2 linked regions of the Homo sapiens genome follow. The protein of the gene in region 2 purifies or fractionates together with the protein of the main gene of each other region. This does not show direct contact. Each region holds a gene or a part of one and is shown on either strand. Other genes may lie near its edges.

The links. The genes of interacting proteins can lie anywhere in the genome.
Region 1: the proteins of OLFML3 (region 2) and MAP7D2 purify together in Homo sapiens (affinity purification with mass spectrometry; 2 studies listed by BioGRID and IntAct, with this or other methods). This does not show direct contact.

Annotation. Positions count from the first base shown.
Region 1 is NC_000023.11:20,113,826-20,122,132, forward strand, and holds the start of MAP7D2 (MAP7 domain-containing protein 2), read right to left. Parts: upstream 3,083-8,307; 5' UTR 3,055-3,082; coding exon 2,925-3,054; intron 2,816-2,924; exon of another isoform or gene 2,706-2,815; intron 1-2,705. UniProt on the Homo sapiens protein: Microtubule-stabilizing protein that plays a role in the control of cell motility and neurite outgrowth via direct binding to the microtubule. Acts as a critical cofactor for kinesin transport.
Region 2 is NC_000001.11:113,974,720-113,982,784, reverse strand, and holds OLFML3 (olfactomedin-like protein 3 isoform 1 precursor), read right to left. Parts: upstream 3,312-8,065; 5' UTR 3,269-3,311; coding exon 3,155-3,268; intron 3,062-3,154; exon of another isoform or gene 2,713-3,061; coding exon of another isoform or gene 2,659-2,712; intron 2,583-2,658; exon of another isoform or gene 2,454-2,582; coding exon 2,168-2,453; intron 1,837-2,167; coding exon 1,016-1,836; 3' UTR 532-1,015; downstream 1-531. UniProt on the Homo sapiens protein: Secreted scaffold protein that plays an essential role in dorsoventral patterning during early development. Stabilizes axial formation by restricting chordin (CHRD) activity on the dorsal side.

The DNA of each region.
Region 1 (8,307 bases), on a different chromosome or scaffold from region 2:
TACAAACAATCCAGTCATACTAGTAGTTATTTTTAAATGAACAATTAAATTATTATTGACTATAATTACCCTGTTGTGCTATCAAATACCAGGCCTTATTAATTCATTCTATTTTTTTATACCCATTAACCATTCCTACCTCCTTCCCACCCCCCAGTACCCTTCGCAGTCTCCAATAACCACCTACTCTCTATCTCCAGGCCCCACCCTATTTTGTTTTTCTTTCGAGACGGAGTCTCGCTCTGTCACCCAGGCTGGAGTACAGTGGCGCGAGGTCAGCTCACTGCAACCTCCGCTTCCTGGGTTCAAGCGATCCTATGCCTCAGCCTCCCAAGTAGCTACGATTACAAGCATGCGCCACCAGGCCCGGCTAATGTTCGTATTTTTAGTAGAGATAGGGTTTCACCATGTTAGCCAGACTGGTCTCAAACTCCTGACCTCAAGTGATCCACCTGCCTCGGCCTCCCAAAGTGCTGGGATCCTGGGCATGGTGGCGCAGAAGTTGCAGTGAGCTAAGATTGTGCCACTGCACTCCAGCATGGACAACAGAGTGAGACTTCATCTAAAAAGAAAGAAAGGAAATATGGTTGAGATCTGGTGATTCTATCTGCTGGTTAAAGGTTGTTAAGCAGATTGAAACAAGCACTTGCTCATTTGTTATACTATGTGTATCAGACAAGCACTAAAATGGACAGTAGATCTGGTAATTTCTATTCAGAGGTAATTAAAAGGAAAGAAAGAAGGCATCACTAGGGGGTAATGGGAACATGCACAGGATTTCAATATCGGAAGAACCTGTTGCTAGAGGAAACCACCAGCGGTATTTCCTTTCCGTCTTTTACACAGCTCCCAGGAAAACCACTTGCCAACTCATATCCCCTAAGTGTGCAACACAAAATTGTTGGACAGCCTAAACATCTCAGGTCTTTCTGTATTTTGCAGCCTTGACAGCACCCAGCCCAAGCTTAGGAACAATGGTTGACTCTCTAGAAAAGCAGGTTAAGTCTCATTAGGAATGGGTCCCAAATGCTAAGGGCCTGGGTAACCAAGAATGATCAGTATCCAGGACAGATAATTATAAAACCTCAAAATCATAATTTTTCTAAGGAGACTTTACTTAAGTACCTGGCCTTGCTAACTCCCCCAAACAACAAATGGTGGTATCACCTGGCACCTAAATTAAACATTCCAATTTTACCATACCAACCTTAATGCACATAGGTGCTTATTTCACATTTTAAACCTTCACACATATTTTTCTATATTTCCAATTTCAAATGAAGGAAGATATCCTTAAGCTAATCTTAATATCAGAAGAGTGCATTAAATGATTCTACAATAGTTTCCAAACAGAACTTATTAAGAATCTCCCCCGCAAAAGTACCTCCTCCCCTTCCCCAATTTTGTTTCCATTAAAAAAAAAAAAAAAAAAACCCCTTAAGTTCCTTCAAATAAAATCCAAGATACACTGAAAACCCAATCATACCGCCCCTCCCCACCTCTCATGAGTACAACAGAACATCGAAACAAACTATTATTTAAGCTCTCAACCAAATAAAAATGCAAACTGAAACAACCTCTCCTTTTCAGTGTTTTATTATACAAGGTCGCCTCTGCCACGGAGGGTCGTTCTGGTGGGTAGTTTCCAGGTTCTTCCCTAGCAGATGCAGCTTGAGTGTTTCAAGCAAAAAGGATAAAAACAAAAGCACACATTTCAAAGGTAGTTATAACGTTATCCTGTGACAGTTAATGAATTCTGCCTTTAAAATAGCATAATGAAAAATACAAACTGGAAATGATTTAAGCTATCTCCTCCTCCTAAGAATGATGCAACTGAAGGCCCAGTCAGAAAATACTACCTCGCCCCCTCAACCCCAGTGAAAAAGCGTGTTTTAAGAAGATTTCTCTTGATTTCTTTCCTTTTCTTGGCCCATCGTATATAAAATACTCCCATCTTCACTATGTGATAATTCATCGAATTATAGTTTTGTGTGGTTTTTTAAATGCATATTAGACTGCAATAAAAAATGTTTTAAAAATAGCCTGCCTTATTAACTAAAAATAAAAAAGTTGTTGTCAGGAAAAACAGCATGAAATCGGTTTCCATGCTGCTTACACCCCCGCACTACCTGCAACCACTTTACAGAACGTTAGCATCAGACCTGCTTATCTAAAATCCTGCCAAATGTCCTCACAGTCTCCTCCGCTGCCTCGCTGGCTTCTGGGCAGCCAGGGACCAGCCCTCCATGGCTCCCAGCATCGGCAGCCTCGAGGGCTGAGAGCCTTGTTTGCCCCGCTGCCTCGATTGAGGGCCGCGGCCCGGCCACCTGAGCAGCGTTCCCAAGACAGGGAGCGCATCCGGGCGGGAGGAGCACCCGGTCCGGGGCAGACGCCTGGCCGCCCGGGCGAATCTGCCTCTGCCAATGGGTGACACGCCGATTTTGCCCCCTGGAAACGCCAAGAGGCGCGAAGCTGGGCCACCTTCGCCGCGGGCTGCAGCGGCGCTCGCGCGCGTTTCCCAGAACGCAGAGAGAGCGCGCGCGGAGGCCGGGGCAACCCCAGAACCCCGCTCGGTTTATCCTAACGACCCCCATGCCGGCTGCTCCTCGAGGACGGGGACTGGACCCGCAGCACCCCCTCAGGCACCTCCATCCCAAACACACCTGCCGCCCACCCTAAGCCACCCCCCATGTGTACCCACTCACCCAGGTCGCCCCAAGAAAGAACCCCGCCACTCGCACAGAGAGGGGTGCGGCCCTTGGATGCACGTCCGGACGATCCTGGGCCAGGGAAAGGGCGTTTATCTCAGCTCTGCGCCGTGCCCCTTCCCCCCACGCTCGAGGACCTTTGCCCTGGGCCGCCGGGCCCGCCCCCCCACAGGAACCCGAAGCCCTCGGGCGCCCGCCACACTCTGGGGATAATACCTTGAGGCCGGTAGTTGGGCTGAGAGGTCCGCACCGCGCCCGGTTCTGCGATCTTCCCTGGGAGAGAGGTTCCCCGCGCAGTCCCCTCAGGCCGGGATCCCGTCCCGGAGCCGCCGCCGCCGCGCTCCATCGGGATGCGCCGGCCGCACAGGCGCACTGCCAAGCCCGCCGCGCCGCACCGAACCCGCGCGCGTCCGCATGCGCACGCGTCCTCACGCAGCACGCGCGCAGGGCGTGCACGTGCGATAAGCGCACCGGTTACCACGCACAGCGCACGCAAGGCGTGCACGTGCGATAGGCGCACCGCTTCCACGCACAGCGCACGCAGGGCGTGCACGTGCGATAGGCGCACCGGTTCTCACGCGGCGCGCGCTTGTAGCGTGTGCATGCAATGTGCACAACAGTCCTCACACAGCGCGTACGGGCGTGCACGCGTCCTTACACGCTGCTGTACACAGTGCACACACAGAAGGCGTGCGTACGCACACAGTTCTTCATACGATGCTTACATGCAACATGCACACACAACGTGCACACCCAGCGTAAATGCATCTTCTCACAGTAGCAGATACACACTCAAAGCGTGTGTAGATGTAGGGTGCAGTTTCTCAGACACCGTGCACACACATCCTCACTCAATGTGTGAACACAGAGCACATAACGCGCACACACGTGCTCACTCAGCACGCACACGCTTACACTCACTGGGTGTCTGCATGCAAACTCAGCAATGCAGCCTTGGGAACAATTTCTGGCTAGGCCCCCAGGTGGGTGCCAGTTGGGCCAGTGACATCTGTGCAGACGCCAGAGGACCCGCCCTCCATGCATAGTTAGGTTCCAGTTTTCGAGGCGCACGGGTAATCAGTGTTTAGTGACGCCCCACCCTCAGCGTGCGGTCACCCAGAGAGGGACAGCAGCAAGCTATTGGGGTCGATCTTCAACTAAGAGGCAGCGGCACGCGCCGTAGGCCGACCTAGGCCTTTCAACGACACCCTACTCCGCAGCCAATTTGGTTCCTCTTCTCCTGAGGCGTAAATAATGCTGACTGAAACCTCCGCGATGCCGGGTGTGGTGGCTCCCGCCTGTAATCCCAACACTTCGGGAGGCTGACGCGGGCGGATTGATTGAGCTAAGGAGTTCGAGACCCCCGTCTCTACAAAAAAATTTTAAAAATTAGCTGGGCATGGCGACTCATCTGTGGTCCCAGCTACTTGGGAGGCTGAGGCGGGAAGATCGCTTGAGCCCGGGAGGTCGAGACTGCAGTGATCACGCCACTGCACTCCAGCCTGGGCGACAGAGACCTTGTCTCAAAAGCAAAATAAAACAAAAAACCTCTGAGGAGGATCTCTCCGAGAAGACACACAAGAAACTGCTAAACGGGTTGCCTCCTAAGTAGGCACTTTTACCACTGCCATGCACATTTATTATCTTTTCAAAAACATTGAAAAAGACATCTTGGCAGGGCCGGCTCAAGCCTTTTGTTTACCCAGGCCTGCCAAGTGATAACCCGTTCCCATGGAGCCCCAGGCTGCATGTTTTTTCTCGTTGGAAGGTGACCAGCCTGAAAGTTTTATTACCACTCCTGGGGGGAGATATACACGATTAAAAATGAAGCTGAATAATGGGTACAGGTTTTCTTTTTTGGATGAAAATATTCTAGGATTATGATGAGTGCACAACTAAGTATACTAAAAACTATTGAATTGTACATTTTAAGCGGGTGAATTTTATGGTCCCTTAATTATGTCTCATTTTTTTTTTTTTAATGTGAAGCTGAAACTCTCAGGAATGGGCACCTGTACTCTTGGCCAAAGCTGGGAAAGTCCCTTTGTGGCACAAAAAATGTTTGTGATGAACGTGTTCCTGACACGCCCAAAGGTGTGCCGGGAGTAGGGTTCAAGTGTGGTGAGAAAGCCAGGAAGTTTAAACATAAATGAGTAGGAAAGTGAGCAGGTGGGGGCTGGTACCCTGAGCTGTAATGAAAACTCGAACACATTGAGATTAAGCCAAATTAAGAGCGTGGGAGCTGTCACTTTCTCCTCCCTTATCTTAGGGACCTTTGGTGAGTTCAATTCATCCAACTCTTGAGCTCATGGACATGTGTGTGTAGCATCCCTCTCTACTTTTATTCTATTTTTGGGGTCCTTTTACTTTCCATTCCTCTCCCTAATTATAAACACCTCCTCTGATATCTTTGCAGCTGCAATTTTGAAATACTGTTTTGAAGATACGCATGTATTTTAATTGTATATAAATGACACTGCATAAAAGCTATCATTCTATTTGTTTTTCCTCTCTTGGCATTGTTCTCAATCTACACAAAATGATTAGCCATTCTATCTGGTTTACCCTTCTGTAAATTCCCTGTTCAATCCTTGCCCACCTTTCCACTGGGCTACTCTGGTTGATTTCCAGGAGTTTCTTGTATTCTAGATAATTTCTGGTTTAAATGTTGCAAATATTTTATCCTAGCCAACTAAGCTTTTTAAGATTGGTAAAATTTTCCTTAATTTTTATGACAAAATCCTATTAACATGTTTACTCCATTTACAATATTGCCCTATTTTTTATCAACTGTTTTTGAAAGTTACATTACAAATACTTCCATGTGTATTTCCTAAGATTATGAATGTTCTGTTACACATACTAGAGTTGACTACCAACTTAAGTTTCACATGGATACAGTAATTTTCTCTCCATTGGCTGTTCCTCCACCTTAGAGGTAGTTTTCCTCTTGCAAAATGCACTGTGGTGAGGCACCTTAAGGCTATGCAGGTACTTACTCTTCGTCAAAAATTCTCTCTAGATTTAGCATCCATTGATGGTTCTTGCTTGATCTGATCTCATAATGATTACGAAGTGATAAAATCCATAAATTTTTCACCTTATGGTTTGCATTTTAAGAAGTCTTAATACGAACTTCCCTAGTCCCAAGATACTCCCCATTGCCCTCATGCTTATAGTAAAAAACGTAAAAAAAAAAAAAAAAAAAAAAAAAAGTAAAAAATGCTTTACTCTTAAGCAATTTTTCTGTATAGGGTGAGGTAAAGAGCCAAATCCACTTTTCTCTCCGAAGTGTAGTTTGGTCAGCACTACCTGCTTACCTATCCTTTCCCCAGTAATTTTTGAAGCCACTTTTTAAAAAATCAAGTACCTAATTTCCATAGTAGGTGAGATAGCTTCTGAGCTATCTATTCTGATCTTCCTGTTACTGCATCTATTATTCACTACTATGGCTTAGGGTGCAATTTATTTGTTGAATTCCCTCTTAGCAGTGTTTCTAGAATTCTTTGAAATTCAGTATTTCCACATGAATATATTTTAGGATGTTTTTGCAATCTCCCACCAAGGCCTGCTGTAATACTAAATGTAATTATATTGAAGTCAGAGGTTAATTTGGAGAAAATTGACATTTTCGACATTATGACAGAATATCCAATAGTGTAATTTCTATTTAAGCTTTTAAAAAAAATGACTTTCGAGTTTTCCGTGCTTTTCCCACTACACTAACTTCCTATAAAAATCTATAGCATGGCCGGGCGCAGTGGCTCACCCCTGTAGTCCCAGCACTTTGAGAGGCTGAGGCGGCCAGATCACCTGTGGTCGGGAGTTGAGACCAGCCTGACCAATATGGGGAAACCCCATCTCTACTAAAGATACAAAATTAGCCGGGTGTGCTGGCGCATGCCTGTAATCACAGCTACTCAGGAGGCTGAGGCAGGAGAATCACTTGAACCCAGGAGGCCGAGGTTGCGGTGAGCCAAGATCGCGCCATTGCACCCCAGCCTGGGCAACAAGAGCAAAACCCTGTCTCAAAAAAGAGGTTTTTGGCCGGGCATAGTGTCTTACACCTGTAATATCAGCACTTTGGGAAGCCAAGGTGGGAGAAGCACTTGCATCCAGGTGTTAGAGACCAGCCTGGACAAAACTGTGGGACCCCCATCTCTAAAAAATAAAAACAAAACATTCGGGCTTGGTGGTGCACCTGTAGTCCCCACTACTTGGGAGGCTGAGGTAGGAGGATCACTTGAGCCAGGGAGGTTGATGCTGTAGTGAGCTGTGATATGGCGTCACTGCACTCACCCTGGGCAACAGAGCAAGATCCTGTCTCTAAATAAATAAATAAATGAATGAATAAATAAATGGCTGAGTGCAGTAGCTTACATCTGTAATCCCAACACTTTGGGAGGTGGAGGCGAGTAGATCACTTGAGGTCAGGAGTTCCAGACCGGCCTAGCCAACATGGTGAAACCATACTAAAAATATAAAAATTGGCCAGGTGTGGTGGCGCATGCCTGTAATCCCAGCTACTTGGGAAGCTGAGACATGAGAATCGCTTGAACCCGGGAGGCAGAGGTCAGTGAGCTGAGATTGCACTATTGCACTCCAGCCTGGGCAACGGAGACTCCATCTCAAAAAAAAAGTTAGTGTCTCTGACAATGCAATAAAAATTTATTAACCTGAAGAGATTAATCTCATACACTGGTACATCCTAACCTTTGAGTACACATCTTTTCAATATTTCATGTGACAAAGTGGGGAATACTACACAAACCTCTTCTGCATACCAATGTACAGCAGTTGTCTCAAGGAAAAGCATTTGTGATAATTTGTATTCCAAACAACTGGACACTTTCATGAAATATCATTTTTACTTGAAAGAAAAGCTGATAAGCTGGTAATTCAAACTTGGATTTGTGTTCAACATTTTTGCAAAAACGAATAAAATTAGCCTGACACTTCAAGGGAAACAAGTGACCATATTTGTTGGTGGTGATAAAATTTGGGCTTTCCAGCATGAAAAAAGTTTTACAAAACTAGTATCTGCTACCATTAGCTTGACAACTTCACTAAAGTAAGAACTTTTCTGAAGAGACAGTGACATTAATGAAATGTGGCATCTTAATACTGTAGAATGAAAAGGGTCAACATATGGAAGATCATACCTCTGTCAGTTTTTTCCAAGTTTTCCAGGTGTGTGAAGTTACAAAGTCCATTCATAGTTCAAAATAGACCAATGAATTATAATGTAACAGTATGAAACGTTTGTTGATTTGGTGTTAGATTCCACAGTGCAACTTAAGAAATCACCTCTTGTCAAGATTGTGTGTAGTATCAAAGAACATACAAGTATCTGAAAAGACTATTAAAATCTTCCTTTTCCAACTACATACCTCTGAGGCCAGATTTTCTTCATATGCTTTAACCAAAACTTACTAGGACACATTGAATACAAAAGCAGATATGAGACTGTCTTCTATCAAGCTGGTCAAGATTTGCAAAAATGTGCAACAATGCCATCTCAAATTTTTGTTTCTGTTACTCCTTATTGTTTATGCTAGGCCGGGCGCGGTGGCTCATGCCTGTAGTCCCAGCACTTTGG
Region 2 (8,065 bases):
AATCAGAGCGGTCCAGACCAAGAATGATTGTGCAACCTGGCCCTGCAGGAGCACAACGCTGGAGGTGGGAGTGGAGGTCTGGGGTGCGGGGCAGAGTCCACTTTAGAGGGGAGACTTCAGTTCTTACTAAAAACACAGGCATTCAGGGCTCTGGTTTCCACACTAGAATGCAATGCAACTAACATGCATTTTGTAGTTCAAAATCCTCTGAGAATCGGAACTGGAATCTCTGCCCTGGGCCCCAGTGTCTCACAGCCAGAGGCACGGTGCCACTGAGGTTCTAGGATGGCTGCTGTGGATTGGCTGCTGTGGATGGCGGTGGGTGTGGAAGGAGGCCTTTCGTCCAGCCTCCTAAAGTGGCGGGATTCTGCCACCTCCCCCAGGCGCCTCACAGTAAACTCTTCCTCAGCAAAGGGAGCCCCGCCCAAGTCTTTAATATGGCTCAAGGAGTGGGGATGGGTTGGGAGGGAGAAACTGGATGGTCAGGGGGAAGTTTGATCTGAGGGCTACCCCAAACAAACACAGGAGAGGAGCAGTGGATTTTCCTTTTAATGCAAAATGTTGCAATACAAAACAATGTGGAGAAAGTCCTGTTCCTCAGGACACTGAAGGGAGGAGTGAGGAAGAGAGGACAGAGCTGGACGTCTCCTCCTATTTCTCCCTCCCCAAGTCACTCTGAGGGGAAGAACACTGCTGCCTGCTCCCTGGGCCTGCCCGCATACAAGGTTAGAGCCCTGGGTCTGGGGCATCCTTAGCCTGAAATTTGTTGACATGGGGCAGGAGAGCAGGAGGGAACATTGAGGGTTTTGACTCTTCGGGCTCTAAAAGGATTACTCAGGATCTGGAGTTCCGTATGAAACAAAGGAGCTGAAAGAATTTGATTGCCATTGGCTAAAAATATAGAGGATTTGAGCCACAACTGGCCCACATTTGAAGAATGAGGAACAAGAAATTTAGTGGGGATATAATATAAATGTATGGGAGTGAGAAAGATGCAAAAAACAAGGCTAGCTCCTCAAACCTCCTCCTCTTTCTTCCTCATCTCCAGCTTATAGACAATCTGGTAGCCATCATCCCAGGCATAGAGCTGGCGTTCTCGGGGGTTATAGCGGAGGCTGGCATGGGCACCATATCTGCGGGGAAAATAAGGGAGTGCTGCCCGTTCAGGGGTCAGGGTGCCGCTGGCATCAAAGGAGCACTGGATGCGGGCCCGACTGGCAGGACGGGTGTTATAGACGACATAGAGGGTCCCACAGATGACAAAGGCAGCCTCAGCATTCTCTCTGGGACATGGTGTGTCCCACTGCTGCTCTGTGTCCAGTGTCTGTGGATCTAACTTGGCCAGACACAAGTGCCTGTCATCCTCCCGGGTGGCATAGACAGCCCAAAGACCTTCCTCATCAGCTGCCAGGTCGATGTAGGTGTCTGCTGTCAAGCCGTAGGGGGGGATCAGCCCCTCTGCTGGGAATACTGAGCTGTCCACCACTGTTCGGTTTGCCAGGTGGAATTTGATTAGCTGCAAAGTGTTCTCCATCTCACCACCTCCACCAGGTCTTCCAGGAGGCCTCCGAGCAAAATAAAGAAAGCCACCATATACCAGCTGCCCTGTGCCTACCCAGGGGAAGGGCACCCGGACTCGGGAAGCTTTCCGGGCAGCCATGGCAAGGGTGAAGTCACGCAGCCTTGGGAAGACAAAGGCTGTGTCATTCTGTGTCCCATCTAACACGTAGATCTTCTCTGTTTGCCCCAGTGGATCCTTGGTCCATAGACCAGCTGGGCCACCAAATCGCTTCAGAATCTTCATTGATCTCACTTGAGAGATTGTGTAGCCACAGTCTGATGAGAAAAGCACAGGAAAAGGAAATAGAGGCAAGAATTAGATGCCTCCAGCAGGAACTCCCCCAGGGTGGGTGATCTGGAGAATAGTGAGCATTTGCCCAGTGGTTGCCTCCAATCTTAGGGAGAATTGAGAAAGAGCGGGTACCACAGCGGCCTGGATCCCCAGAACCTCTCCTTAATAGACCTGGCATTACAGAGGTTTCCCTAAAACAGATTCCAGAAGACAGAGCCACAATGGACTGGGACAAAGCGAAAAAAAGAGTAAGAAGCAAGGAAGGAAGAATATCGGTTCTGAGAAGAGTTAGGGGCCTGCTTTCAGATTATTTACCTGTCACCATATCGTACTTCTCATTCCTTCTTCCCTTGCCTTTGGTCCCAGGGCCTCCAGTCACCTTCTCATCAAACTCTACACAGGGCAGAGCTGGGTTCTGGGTCTCCAGATAGTCTACCTCCCGCTCCAGACGATCCACTCTCCCGGAGATGGTGTCGGCCTCAGTTCTGAGTGCCTCCCGCTCCTTCTCTGCCACCTCCAGCAGTGGCAGCATCTTGTTCTTGAAGTCCCGCAGCTCAGCAGCATGCCGACTACTCTGGTCCTGGCACTGGGCCAGCCGTTCCTGAAGGGATGGGGGATCAGGAGGGAGGCTGCAGGGTTACAACTCCCAGGCAGGGAGAGGCCCAACTCGGGAGTCAGGAATGGGAAAAAAAGAGCAAACTCAGCCAGGCTTCAATATCCCCTTCCACTCCTGCAGAAAAGGAAACCAGATGTGCAGAGGTGCTAAATGTGCAAAGAGCCTAGCTGAGATTCACCTAGGCCCCTACCCCGACTCCATGTCCTCCAGCCTGTGTTCTCTGTGAGCAGTGCCACTGAGCCATCTGAGCCTCTAGGCAGGTCTAAGCGCATGAAGGTGTGAAGAGGTCTCTGCTCCCTTAGCAATTATCCTCTCGGACACTAAAATGCTACGGATCTCAACCTGTTAAAAAGACAGGAAGTTATAGATTCCCCGGGAACCTCCAACTTCAACAGAATCATCACCTTCTCTGGAGATGCAGCCCCACAATTTTGGCTCTCGTTTCCACTCTGCCCCCTTATTCTATCTAATCCCAGAGGTAAAACGCAAAAGTCGATTTGCTTTGGAATTGTTCTATGTGGGGTAAGAGGAGGGCTTGTCATTCCGAAGGTCCTCTTATTAAGAGAGAATTTTCTGTAGACTCTAACAGAGCCCTTTCTTGTTATCCCCAGATCCCTAACAAACTGGTTGAACCAATAGCCCTGGAATCCTTCTAGGCGGGGCTAGAAGAGAAAGGGGTCCCTCACCTCTAAAGCAGCTAGTCGGCGTTCCATGTACTCCACAAGGTGGTGCTGCTGTCCTTGGAGGGGTCCCGACCATGACAAAAGGAACAAGATGAGGAGAGGGGTGCTGGGCCCCATGGCAGCCTGGAGAGTGGTGCCAGAGTAGAAGGAACGTACAGTCAGCCTCTTCCCCTCAAGCCCGAGGGTTAGCTTTGGAGGCGGGGTGGGGGCGGTGCCTTCTCTCCTGATCTCTGGGTCTCTCTCACTACTCTGGAATGCTTTCAGTTCTCTTTACAACCCCCACCCCCTCCTTTCCGCCAGGATTGATCAAACACAGATGGCCCCATTGCACAGCAGCCAGAAGCCTTAACCACCTCCCGCCTAGGCTGTAGGGTCCTCTGGAGGGGAAAGAGATGGAAACCCGAAAGCAGAGGCCTTCTAGGCAGTCAAGCAGGGAAGCTAGCTGCAGAAAGCAGAGACCCCAGAGAAAACTCAGCAAACGCCATTCCTGTTTTAGGAAAGTTTCACCAGTGCTGACTTAAGAAACTGACATTTTTCATTAATCTTTCCCTTTCCCTGCAATAGAGTGGGTTTTCAGCCTTGTTCAGTAGAAGCTGGGAGCTGGGGAGGTGAGGCTTGAAGGGAGGAAGCAGGAAAACAATGGCCCAAGTGGTCAAGCCCAACTTATTCTAAAGCTCATTGGCGCCACCTTGTGCTAAGCAGCTGGTGTCATCTCTCATGATAATACAGAAACTAAGGCTTAGACTTCACCCCATGAGGAAAATTTTCCACAAAAGCCAAATATATTGAATTTACAGGGGTTTTCACCACTGAAATGCATATTTCCCCCAAGACTATCCAATTACTACTTTGGGGGCTATGCAAATATCTGATTTAGCCCAAGGAAGAAAATATAACTGAGATTAAAAAAAAAAAAAAAACAGGTCACTGAGAAGTTAGTAAATTAACTCGATCGTCTGGAAGTTAAGGCTGACAGCAGCGCTGTTTTACATGGCTTTCCTTTGCTTGAAAGAGGCCAGATATAGTCTCTCACCAAAACTGAGGAGTGTTCAGTGAGTTCACACTAATTTACTATACATTCATGTATTGCGGGGGGGCGGAATCTGATATATATATATATGTTGTTGCAGTCTAGATCAATGTATTCTGACTTCCTTACCACTGGGAGAAAAGACTATTGGTTATTTCTCTTGGTTGTGGTCCAAAAGGGTATTTCTGAGTGTTTCTCATTTCTATATCCCAACTAAGGCTGCAGGAGCCCAAAATGAATTAATGGCCACCATAAGGTAGACTTGGGCCATAAGGTAGACACACGGGCCGAAAAAAAAAATCAAATAGAGCATTTACTCAGAGACCTGCAGTCATTAATCGAAACAAACCCCTATTTCTTTATCGGGAGAAATTCTATTCACTTTAGAATCAACAGAATCTGATGAGAGGTTCCTTCTGTAAAAAGGACCATGACTCTAACAGTACAGTTTGAAAGGAGGGGAAAAATAGCAGCTTCCTGTGGTTACTCATCTTTTCATTCTGCTACTGCTATCTGGCAAAACATATGAGGAAACAAAGCTTAATTAGCCGGTCTCAGAAGTCTTCTACCTCTTTCAAAGGGTCAGATCCAGATGATGTGAAGTAAGGACCCTGGACACTGCATTCTTGGGAAGTATTCCCTGCCAAACCCTATTCATTTCCAGTATGGAGATTTGTGTGAAGAATGAAATTGTCTCTAGTACTCTACTGATGTTCAAATACAATATGCTTAGCCACTTTCAAAGATGTCATTTATTGATCCCCTTTATATCCTATAACAGAAGTCAAAAACAGCCACATAAGTCAGAAAATTTACCCATTTTATTGATGCATTGCAATTGCTCTACATTTTACCATATTATGTAGAAAATACTGAAAATACAAGCTACTTTGTAAAACCAAAGACAAACATTGAATCCAAAGATAAACTATGTTTTACACAATGGACCCTTTTCCCATAGTTAGTATTAAATTTTAAATATCTATTTCTTTTGTTAAAATGATTATTTTACATACTCCCTAAGTACATCTGCATTACAAACATAGCTCAGTAATTCTCAGAAACTATCTGTTTCTAGAGGCTTGTTGTAAAAGAAAGCGCACAACCAAAAAAAGGGAGAAAGCAAAAAAAGTTTAAATCGCACACAATAACTAGCATATCAAATACATTTAATAAAGTAGGAATTCCATTGCAATATCAAGGATTCAAAGCAGAAATACTAACATTACATATAATGTACATATAATGTACTGCTACATGTAGTGAGATTATTTTTCAAGCTGAATTGAAACCACACATTATATAAAGTTTAGCAACAAACAACCATGTAGACATGCTGCACCATCTATCAGTTAAAAAAAAAAAAAATCAAAATAGGAAGCAGGCTCGGGCCACTCCTGTCACTGAGAGGCAATTTCATTTCCTATCCTAAAACAAACCATCTCAACTAGTGAATTTTTGCATAATAATGCTGAACAAAACACACATTACTGTGCTTGCCTGGCTAAGGGCAGTCAAGCTTAGCCCCTCTAGTGGAGGACAATGGATGAGCAATCACAAAAGCAGGCTCAGAATGGCCAGAACTGTTTGAAATGGAGTTCTTATTCCTGGGGTTGGTATTTCAGCTGAGCACTGAAAATAATATCACCTCCTGGGAGCTATTAAAAACTCTGGAGTGACCAAGTGTCCCTATGAGCCCAGAGTGGCTACACTGAACCCTTCTCCGCTTCTTCTCTCACCCGGAAAGGAAGAAGTTGGAAATGCCAAGTTCTGAGAGAGGACTTAAAGCCTTAAGCTGGTTTGAGGTCAGGTCACTGTGACCCAGGCCAGCTGCTCACTAAATTCACCAGGCTTCCTCCCTTCCTGTCAGGGCCAACAGGGCTAACCCCAGGGACAGAATCTAAAGCCACAGTGAGCACATACATACACATTCAGCAGACACAGGTGGATTTTTATGCTGGAAAATCGGAAATGCCAGTTTGCAGACTAAGACTGAAAAATCTCTAGTTTTTAAAGCCACACACTGCTAGGCAAGTGACTAAGGTAACAATACAAGCTCTTGGTATTATCCTTTTCTGTGGAGTTTAGACTCCTATCTTAAGTGGTATCTGCTTATTGGACTGGGGTGCAGGAATGGGATTTGGTTTTCTTTCCTGCATCTCATTTCTTACAAAAACAACAAATCTTGTCCCTTACAGAAAAAAGACAAGGAACAAAAAATTTGTCCTTTAGAAACTAGACCTGTGTTCCAACAAGAAAATCAGAATGTGCTTGGCAAAAAGGAGACACAAAGATCACACATGTTGACCAGAAAACTGTATGACACTAGTGACAGAAATTATACAAACTGCTTGGCTATCTTGACCAATATAGTGCTGAAAACACAACTCAATATAATGATTTTAAAAAATAAAGAAAACACAACATGTTCCTGGTAGGCTGTACGGACTACCTGCCCCATCTTGGAAGCCCTTACTCCTTACAATGAAGAAACTCCAAATACTTTGACAGCTCCTCGGTGTTCAACCTGGTACAGAGCTGGCTGACCAGGCTCCATGAAATCTCCCATCTCCATCCTGCACCTCCTTGACACCATCTCTATCTACACAGAACCAGTCCTAAAATTATATCTCAAATATATCATTTTCAATTCAGATGGAACACACCTGTATTTTAGGATTAATCTTCTTTCCCCAAATCCTTTATGGGCAGGAATGTCCCCATCCCCAGTACCTTCTACTTGACCCAGATCCATGCAGGAGCTGAGAGTACAAGGACAATTTCACAGCTTGAAGGGCCCCAAGACTATACAAGCTGTTAAAAAAGAAACCTCAAAAGCCTCAATGACTCAACAGGCTTTGGTTCCTTCTCTATATTCTTCACCAGCTAAGAAACCTTTCTGTGAGTTCCTTGTCACCAGCGGCACCACAAAACTTCTCCTCATAGTATGGGGACATGGTAAGCAATACAACAGGCTCTTTGGTATAAACACATCTGTTAACATGTTTTTTTCAACAAGCAAATATTTTACTAGGAATGTCAACTATGTGCAGGAAGGACTGCCACATGGGAAAAGGAAAAAAAAATTCATTCTAAAAGTGATTGCACATACTTTAAAAGAATGCATATTTAATATTGGCTTGACTCCTCTCACCTGCTTCCTGAATTCTCACAGAAGCAAGGTAGCAACGCACAGTGAGAGAGCCACATGGGGAAAATGCTTCTGTGAGAACTCAGCCGAGAATCCAAAATGGAAAGGGGTAGAGGTGGTGGTAAAGGAGAAAAGCTGCTGTTTTTATTTTTCAATGTTGGCAGGGAAACTGAGAACAATGCATTACACAATACAGCTACTAATCCTGTTCTGATAAATCCCGGTGAACAACTTAGGGTCCACGGGGGCTTGCTGGTCCATCCTAAGGCAAGCTCACTGTAAACTCTATTAACCACTACATTATCATATAAGGCACTACAATAAGGGAAGGAGGAAGAAAGGGAAGGAAGAGACACACACTGAAAAACTCCTCACCAGACACACCTGTGCAAAACAATTCCAAGGGTCTCCTCTCCTTGCAGGCAATGCCCCTGCTCATTCAGCACTACAGTAATATGCTCTAATATAATTGCAATTAGTTCACATACATTCCAACAAGTATCAGTTCATTTTGGTTTAAATACAATGGAGACATCAATCCATCTCCGGGATAACACTGGAGGATCACATACACACTAAGTACACAATTCAAGTGTAATCACTACACATTTGATTACAAATAACATTTTGGGTTAGCAGGAAAAATTGCTTGTTATATTTTTCTAATCAATATGTACATATTTAATTATGTAAAATATTAAAACACCACCATTACAAAACTTCTAAAATATTT